2 separate regions of the Homo sapiens genome follow, and region 2 is linked to region 1. The links come from fine-mapping of genetic effects on gene expression. A gene starts in region 1. The other region holds a variant in brackets. All regions are shown on one strand. Distances are from middle to middle.

What was found. PIP is the estimated chance that this variant, and not a neighbour inherited with it, causes the effect. A credible set is the group of variants that fine-mapping cannot tell apart.
Region 2: its variant is the best candidate, but not a certain one, in a credible set for the expression of RASGEF1B in whole blood (TOPMed, PIP 0.74).

What each region holds. Positions count from the first base shown.
Region 1 is chr4:81,469,331-81,473,727 of GRCh38, reverse strand. RASGEF1B (RasGEF domain family member 1B) reads left to right here and starts at 1,821. Exons shown (of 14, transcript NM_152545.3): 1 at 1,821-1,958. RefSeq lists a silencer at 1,480-1,889.
Region 2 is chr4:81,510,578-81,514,974 of GRCh38, reverse strand. No RefSeq gene overlaps it. Among named protein-coding and RNA genes, the nearest start is that of RASGEF1B, 41 kb to the right of the region's middle. The variant C/T (reference allele first, on the strand shown) is at 1,628.

The DNA.
Region 1 (4,397 bases):
CTTGAAACCCAGGGCCCTGGTGGGGTAGGCACTGGAAGGAATCTCCTGGTTTGTGGGTTGCGAAAACTGGCACAAGCACAGTATCTGTGCTGGAGTTCCTCAGGCTCAGTCCCTCATGGTTTCCCTTGGGTAGAGGAGAAAATTCCCCAACCCCTTGCACTTCTCGGGTGAGGCGATGCCCCACCGTGCTTCAGCTCACTCCCCGTGGGCTGCACCCACTGTCCAACCAGTCCCAGTGAGATGAACTGGGTACCTCAGTTGGAAATGCAGAAGTCACATGCTTTCTGTGTGAATCTCGCTACGAGCTGCAGACTGGAGCTGTTCCTATTCAGCCATCTTGCCAGCAATCCCCTGCAACTCTTAATTTCTGGCTACAGGATCAGTAATGTCAAGGGTGTAAGTGACTGGCCCAATGTCATATGGCTCGTTTGTTACAGAATCGGGATGCAAAAACTGAGCTTGAAAAATCAACCAACCAGTACAACCACAACAGCAGGGCAGGGCCACCCAGCCTCTGTGTTTCACTCTGCATGGCTGGCCCACCAAGTTCCCTTGGCCTTATGGCTTCTCATTTAAACTGCAGAGAAGCTATGGTTAAGTCAAAGGCTCAAGTAGGTTAGAGTGAATTACTGAATCAGAGGAGTCCTATTTACACAAAGGAGGGAAGGAGTATCATAAAGAGGAAGAAAAGTAAAAGGAGGCATAAATGAAGAAAATGAAAGAGGAATCCGCTAAGAATAGACAAAGTGAGCGTCAAAATGACTCCACCCCAGGAAGGAGAGGGGGAGGGACCCATGGAGCAGGAGGGAAAAGGATTCCTCCCCCTCAGTAATCTTAATTATAACAGTATAGGACAGGTATGAATAGTGTTGTTTTATATATGAGAAAACTGAAGCTCAGAAAAGCTGTATCACTTACTCAAGGAAATACAGTTGGTAAGAGTCTCCTAATTCTGTAAATTTTTTCTTTTCATAGGTCTCTTTCTTCCCTTGTTTCCATCATTATTTCCCTCTGGCCTCCTTTTATGTGTACAAAGTGAAGTACGGAGGTTTTTACCTTTTTTCTGAAATAGTTATCAAATATCCCATGATGGAGTGAGTACGTGGTTACCATGACAACACAGCCCTCACTGAGGACTAGCCTCCCTGCTTTGCCTCCGGAATCATGTTTCACGGAACAGGTTCCTCTCCGTGCAACTTCTAGCAGCTGTAATTCTACATTTTGTTTGGGTGATTATTTGCTGAATGTCTGTCCTCCACTAGACTATGTAAGTTTCACAATGGCAGAGACCAGCCTACTTTGCCAAGTGTGCCCCCAGCGTTTTGCACAGTGCTTAGCACCAGGATCTATGTGTTATTTGCTAAGCAAATGTTCTGTGGTTCCTCTCCGCTCTCTTCTGAAAGTTACATGGACAGTAACCTTTAGCTCACAATTATGTTAATAAATACTGTGTAACGAGTCGGGCCGGTATTTACAGATAGTATACACGTGAATGAACACACACACACTCACGACTGCACAACAGCCCGGGGCAGGTGCACTCAAGAGGAAACGCGCACAGTCGGAGCCAGCCTGACCAACGCTGTTAAACACCGCTGCGCTGGGCTCCGCGGGCCTCTGCCGCGTGGGAGGGCACCCAGGCTGACGCGCTGCGGGAGTCTGGGGCCCACTGGGACTTGCCTGCCGGGCCGGGTGGCGGCGGCGTGGGCGGTGAGCTGCGCGGTGATTGGCCCGCGCCTGCCGGGGCGGGGCGGGGCTGGCAGCGGGAGGCAGGCGCCTGAGCCAAGGGGGGCGTGCGCGGCGGCGGCTGCCGTAGTTTCAGTATAAACAAGGAACCCGACTGGTTAGACAGATTTTGTTTTTCTTCTTCCCGCGCGCTTTAGCTCCCTGTCCTTTGGTCGCATTTGTGGGCGCGCGGCACGCAGCCGGGAGGCCGAGGACTCGGAGTTCACCTGCAGGTAGGTTGTTCCCTGGCTGGGTTGTTCTCCCGGCTGGGGGACCACAGCCCGGAGCGGGAACTCCGGACCCTACTGCGCGCTGCGCTCTCCCTGGAGATCCCTGGGCCGCGCGGGGAGCGAGCGGGGCTCAGAGACTTCACCGGCTGCCGGGTGCGCTCCGAGGCGGCGGGAGATCCCGAGGCGAGTGAGCGCGAACGCGGGCGCCAAGAGCCGAGTTACAGCCCGGGACCGGGGGAGGGCCCCTGCCCGGCCGCTGCGGGTACCTGGGACTGCCGCGGCCCCAACAGGTGCGAGGCCGAGCCGCTGGGACCCGGGCAGGGCCAGGCTTGGGTTGGGTTGGGTTGTGCCTTCCCTCTTTCTCCCTGATCCTGCAGCCAGGCCTTCTGTCTCGAGATAGGTGGTTTTTGAGGATTTGTCTTGAGTTGTAATCGCGTCCATCATTTTTTTCATCCCTTCTTTCCTTCGTGTGCATACCTAGGTTGATTCTTCCACTTCTTGACCAGTTTTGTGTGCGTGTGTGTGTAGGGGGAGCTGTTTATTTTTGTTGTCAGTGCCATGTAATCTAAAGTCTGACTCGTAGGAAGGGACAAGGGAACAGAAGTCACATACTCGCCACCGACAAGGTGATGTGCTGTCATCCTTCGGTGTTCACCTGGCAAACTTGGGAGACACTGAGTCGCCTTGCTTTTGCCAGAGCTCAGTTGAGTCGCCTCGGGTCACCTGCCTGGGGAATCTCAGATGAGCTAGAGGTATCTAGGAGCCTCGCGGGCAGTCAGCTTAAGGGAGGTTCTTTCTAAGGGAGCTGTGAAAACAACTTAAGTGCTGCACCAGGGAAAAGGGCGAGACGGGGGCTGGGGTGCGCGCGCCTTTGTGTGTGTGTATGGACGTACCATTTCAATACTGCTTGCTGTCTTGCCCCAACCAAATCGGCGCAGTTCAGGCAAAAGCAACGTAGCTTAATCCTCTGACACTGCCGAGGGTGGCACAAGTGTGGCAGATAACACAAGGAGATTGTCTAGACGGCGATTTTCTCTTCGGAATGTAGATGTGTCCATCCTCCCTGATGAATTCGGTGGATATGGTGTATATAGATGAATATGCACACAAATTTGTGTATGTGTTTGGGCCGAACGCGTCTCCAAGGAGTCCTTCGTCAGCACCATGTGACGACGGTCAGGAACTGCTGGTGTGTGTAGATCTATATTTAGCTCAGATGGTCTAATGGCCGAAGGGAGGGTCTCTGAACTGGGTGCATAAAGGGGAAGAGTCTAGGGATCAGGGTGGTGCACTCTTGAATGATGTCTGGCACAGTCACACTCAGATGGGGTGAATAATTGCCCTTTCCTCGTGAAAACAGTAGCTAGAGCTTGGCATGTGATGGCTATGCCTTAATTTAAAACATAGTTGGACCATGGCGATAAGCCTCTGCTAAGAAACAAGGAGGTTTACAGTTAAGCAGCGTATATACCTGGTTGGCCGTTTGGGTGAAAATAACTGGTCCCATGAGATTTAGAACAAATATAGAGTTGCTTTCTTTAATAAAAAGAAATAAAAATTATTTGCTGTTGAGGTTTTCATAACAGAAAAAAAGAAGGCAGCTTGTTAAACCCTATCATTAAAGGTAATTTTATTTTTTTAAGTGAGGGGCAGTGGTGGAGCTAGAGAGGAGGACCTTAGGGCACTTTTGACAGATATCAGGGTTTACAAACAGCGTTATATTATGCCTCTCAAGCAGATTTTCTGGTGAAGATGAGATCAGCCACTGATTAACAAGTTTCTTGTTGGCATTCTTCCACTGCATGTCGGGTCAATCCTTTGTTTTCTTGGAGGTGGGCAACATTTCTAACTACTAAGCATATTGGCCTTGTACTTTCCAGTTGTCTAACGAAGTGTTACATTCTTAGAATTTATTTCTCCTATGGTGCATTTTCAGTCTTGCTTCATTTTATGTGCTCCACTGGATATTTTATCTGATACTAACACATCTAATACCTGGGAATCATACTGTCTTTTGGAGAAGAGAATCACCAGAAAGCATTCCCATGTATTGTCTCCCGCTAACCCCCTACAGCTTAGCATCTAATAGATTATTTATATGTGTGTGTGTGTGTGTGTATATATACACATATATGTACATATATACATATGTATTTATATGTATAACTAAATCAAAGTATTATAATAACACATAGTTCTTATATAACATTTTATTCTTAGAACCTAAAATTAACTACTAGTTAATAGAGTACAATAGACTATATAAAAACAATTCAATACACCTTTCTAAGGAAAAAGACATGGTAAGAAAATTGAAGGGGAGGAGCTGGGATCCCTAGTATGACTCAGGAGTGTTGGGATCAGCTTTGTCAATATCCGCAGAGTACCTGGAAGAATTGGACTTGGGAGGAACATTGGGATAGCCCCAGGAGAGCACCTCCT
Region 2 (4,397 bases), 41 kb before region 1:
AACATACACTGTAGAAAGAAGCATCCAAGTAGCACAAAACAGCTTAACTCACCTCCATGCACATGACCCTAGCAGAGTTTCTGACCCAAAATTTGTCTCCAGTCCATCCTAGATAGCAATAACCTCTCCAAAATTCTGCTGTCGTTCTTTTTCTGAAGGGCTCATAAATCAGATGTTATTAGTTAGGATAATCTTCAAGGCTCTTTGTTGACTGGTCCCAATATACTCTTTTTGAGCCATTTTCCCCAATGAAGCTCTCTATTCCAAGTAGGTCAGTTTCTTGAAGACATATGCTCTGTTCATTTCTACCTTCAAATCTTAACCTATATTCTTTCAGTTAAAGAAGTCTCCTGAGTTTATTTGTTTTTAAAGTGGTCTGTTTTGCTTATGCCAATTAAAATTCTGTGTATCAAAAAAACCTAAATAAAACCCATCTCATTCCCATAATCTTTCTTGGCATCTGCTGTTTATACCATAACATCTAATAACTTGTCTGTATGTGCTCTACTTGCTTCCCAGTTGCATTTTATTCATACATCTTGTCTGCTCAAACAAAGGACTGTTCTTTTGAGACCTAGGTTTGGTTTTTTGCTTCCTTGTCATTTCTCCTAATGCCTACCACAGAGCTGACTGGACTGTGGATACCAATTAGACTGAATCTCCAGAAAGCACTTTCAAATTGGGAGGCAGAGAATGAAGGAAATGGATACATACTATCTGCCATGATGGGTATTTGTTATCTAAAGTAATCCTCACAAAATGCTGCCAAGCATTTATTATTAACCTTACCTTTTAGAGATGAAGAAGCAGATGTTCACAAAAGCTAAGTTACTTGCCCAGTGCCACATGGCTAGTGTGTGGCAGAGCTGGAATCTGAAAACAGATGTTTGATGTCAAAGCATTTCTTTTTTTCCCCTCTTTTTACTCAATATTTTGCAATGGTAGCAATCTTTAAGACTGAGGAGTATGTTACTATGCATTCTTAGTGGGTAATTTCATGAAAAAATTAGTTTTGCCTATAAAATGGCATTATCATCTTTCTTTTAAAATAAAATTAAAATTGCATAGAAGACAGCTTATCATTATCAAATAAAATATGGAAACATAAGGGGAATCATCAGGGAAATGAAGTCAGTAGGGAAATAAAAACCTTGCCCAGGTTAGTTAACTAAGAAATCCTGAGTTTAGACAAACTTCAGGCTCCCAGACTTTTTGGAGAGGCAGCAAGAATATCAAAGTATATTTTCTATTGCCTGGAAAAGGGTCTTTCAAAGATCCACATTGTTTTTCTTCATTTCTCTCTTGCTTAACTTTAGAAGACAAAGTAAGATAGTGCAAGTTTGATTTCTAATACTTTCCAAAACAAAACCTAGGCCCAGTATACTAAGAAGGCAAAATGGCAAAAAAGCAAATTAAAAAAAATTTTTTCATTAAAACCCAGTTCCTTTTTCTACCTATAAACCTCAACCACATTACCCATTCTCCCTGTTCCTGTGCCCCCAGCTGCCCTGGAAACAGAGTATTTGTTTAATATCTTTTTCTCTGTTAAGCTTTTTCTTTCTCTTTGGTTTCTCACTGAATGGGGGACACCTGTGTTGTGTAGTGGGCATGCTGGGGGGAGGCCAAC[C/T]GCATCTCCTGAGCTATAGCAGAGGGAGGGAGGGTTCATCCTGTCTCACAGGAGGAAAACTCCCCCTGAGAAACTTTCAAGGCCTTTTTGTGGGATGACTACAGAAAAATACATTTTATTGACATCTTGGTTGTTTCCAGTTATTCCCATCATTTCTCCTGCCTGTGAGATCTGGAAACTCACATGCTAAGTCATACACATGTAATTCCTCTAGCTGACAGACATCATTCGGAGGCTGCATAATAAGAGGAAGGGAAAGGGGGAGGGGGAGGAGGGGGGGGCTTTCTGAGGAGGCTGAAGCTTTCCTTACATAGAAAAACCATTTCCCTTTATTCTAACCCCAGGCTTGTTTTAATTTCAAGCTATTAATTTGAAATAGCTAATCAGTTGCTACAGGCATACACACACTGCCGGGACTGCAAAATACCTGCCCTTTTCTAATCAACCCCAAAGTGATAATGATTTATATGTATAATGTGCACTTAGTCTGTAAAGCCCAGGCACTTTGCACGAGATGATTTGTGGAGATTATTCAGTAGGATTTTCTAATTCATACTAATGTCTGGGAGGCCCATGGAGGATTCTCACATTTTCATGATTGAACAAGAGAGTGAACACACACATTTTTTTAAAAACACAAACTCTAGGAAGAGGTTTCACAAAGCTTATTTTATGCATTTCCTTGGACAAGTATCACTTTGTTTTGAATGTTTATCATTCTCCATGGGGTACTAGTGGAAATGCCCTAGGAGTCCCTAAAGAGAAGTGAAGCTTACATGGCCTGAGTTTTCATTGCTGCTTCAATACCAAATAGTTACCGGGAAGCAGGATGGGTTTCTTCATTTAAATGAGAATTATTTGGTTTGGCTTAATGAAGCAAGAATTAACTGTTAGCCGTATCACTTAACCCACTGCTGTGATGTATCTATCTTTATTAAGGAAATCTAATACATTCTTGGCAGGTTGCAGCAACCTACACATTTGAGAGAATTGGTAAGAAAGAAGACTATTGATTTTAATTGGAATGACAGCAGGAATTTGAGAGAATGCAGTAATCTGCACTGAAATGGATGTTACCACTATCCCAGCTACAGTGTGTGTCCTGTCTTCCACCCAAACGGTCAATCAGATCTTCACTGACATTGCAAAGTGTTGTCTTGACTACCCCTACTTAAATCCCACTCTGGAGATTCCATTTCCATAATGGACCACTCTCTCGAGGGAAAACACAGCTGCAGCATCATTAAGTGCCCAACCCAGCATAGCACCTTCCCTTGGAGTTCTGCCATTCAAGTCAATTGCAGTGTTGACCCAAATGAGATTATTAAATATCTTGGGAACATTATAATCCCAAGAAACATGGTGGCCAAAAGACCAATTTATACTTACTTAAATTTGACTCATCTTTCCCAGAAAGCCTTTCTCAAACTAAAGTTTAATTCAATATAATAATTGAAATATACTCACCATCCAAATGGGTAGATTCCTGAGGTCAAATGCTTTAATTATTGGGGCCATTATAACATTAGAGACAGGGAGTCATGAGAAAGAAAAAGTCTGGCAAACAAGGGAAGTAACTGAGGATTTGTAAAAGTCTGGCAAACAAGGGAAGTGACTGAGGATTTGTTTTTTAAATAGAAATTCTATTTGTATGTCGCTTCACAGGAGTGCTATTTTATTTTAGTACCTGCCTCTCAATGGTCTCAGTATACTTTACCAATAACACCTTTTTATCATTTATGTGTCTCAGGTTCTGACTTTTGCAACTTCCAAAATATGCCTTTTGCCAGTAATAAGTGAGAATTAAAAAAATTACAGCATATTCCTGAAACATCATTTGGGTAGAATAATTTTTTTGTTCCTTTCCATATATCCTTATTGTTGGTTCCTATCCTAATATTTTAAGAAGGAAAGAAATCCTATTGTGCCTAGAATAGGTATAAATATGAACATCTTCAGGCCCCTCTTTACAGACTTTGTTTACTATTCAGTATTGGATATATGGAAAAATAAGCAGAAGAATAGTGAATTAGCTTGTGTTGCATGTCACTAAGGTTGCAAATTTATGAAGTGAATCAGACTTCAGATCCAATACTTGCCAAATACTGCTTGGACAGTTATATTTTGAGCAATTATTTGCCGAAGATATGTCTGCAGAATACACGGATACCTTGGGAAGAGGTATTGATCATTTCAACTCCCCCCAGCCAATTCTGAACAAATGACTGTACATGTTTTTAAGGGAACTGAGCATGTTCCCTAAGGATGCCCCGTAGTTTTTCTGGTCCAGTGTTTCTCTATTCCTGTTATCACAGTCATATTCCAGCTGAGGTAATTCCATCTTAATGTGCCTGTTACCTATCAAAATGGATGTCACAGTACATTTCCCCCACAGGAGACCGCTTCTGTGGGTAAACGAGGCACATATATCTGGATTGTCACACACTCTAGAAATCCCCTGGGTCTTACAAATGCTTCAAATTTATAGCTGCTAGTTTTAGTGTATGTGGGTGTGTGGGTGACTGTCAATCAAACATGGAGCTTAACATTTACTGTGACTTTTTATATTGAAATACAATTTCTTTTCTTCCTCTGTGGTAAGCCCAGAAATGGAGTGGAACAAGTTAATTAAAATATTGGTGGCTTAATACTTTTCAGCCACTGATAGTTTCCAGTCAGCTCTTCTCTGGAACATTCTTTGTCATTGTGAAGCTAATCTGGAGCCAATAGGAAGATTTTTCTAAACATGAAATAATTTCTTCTAAGGTCT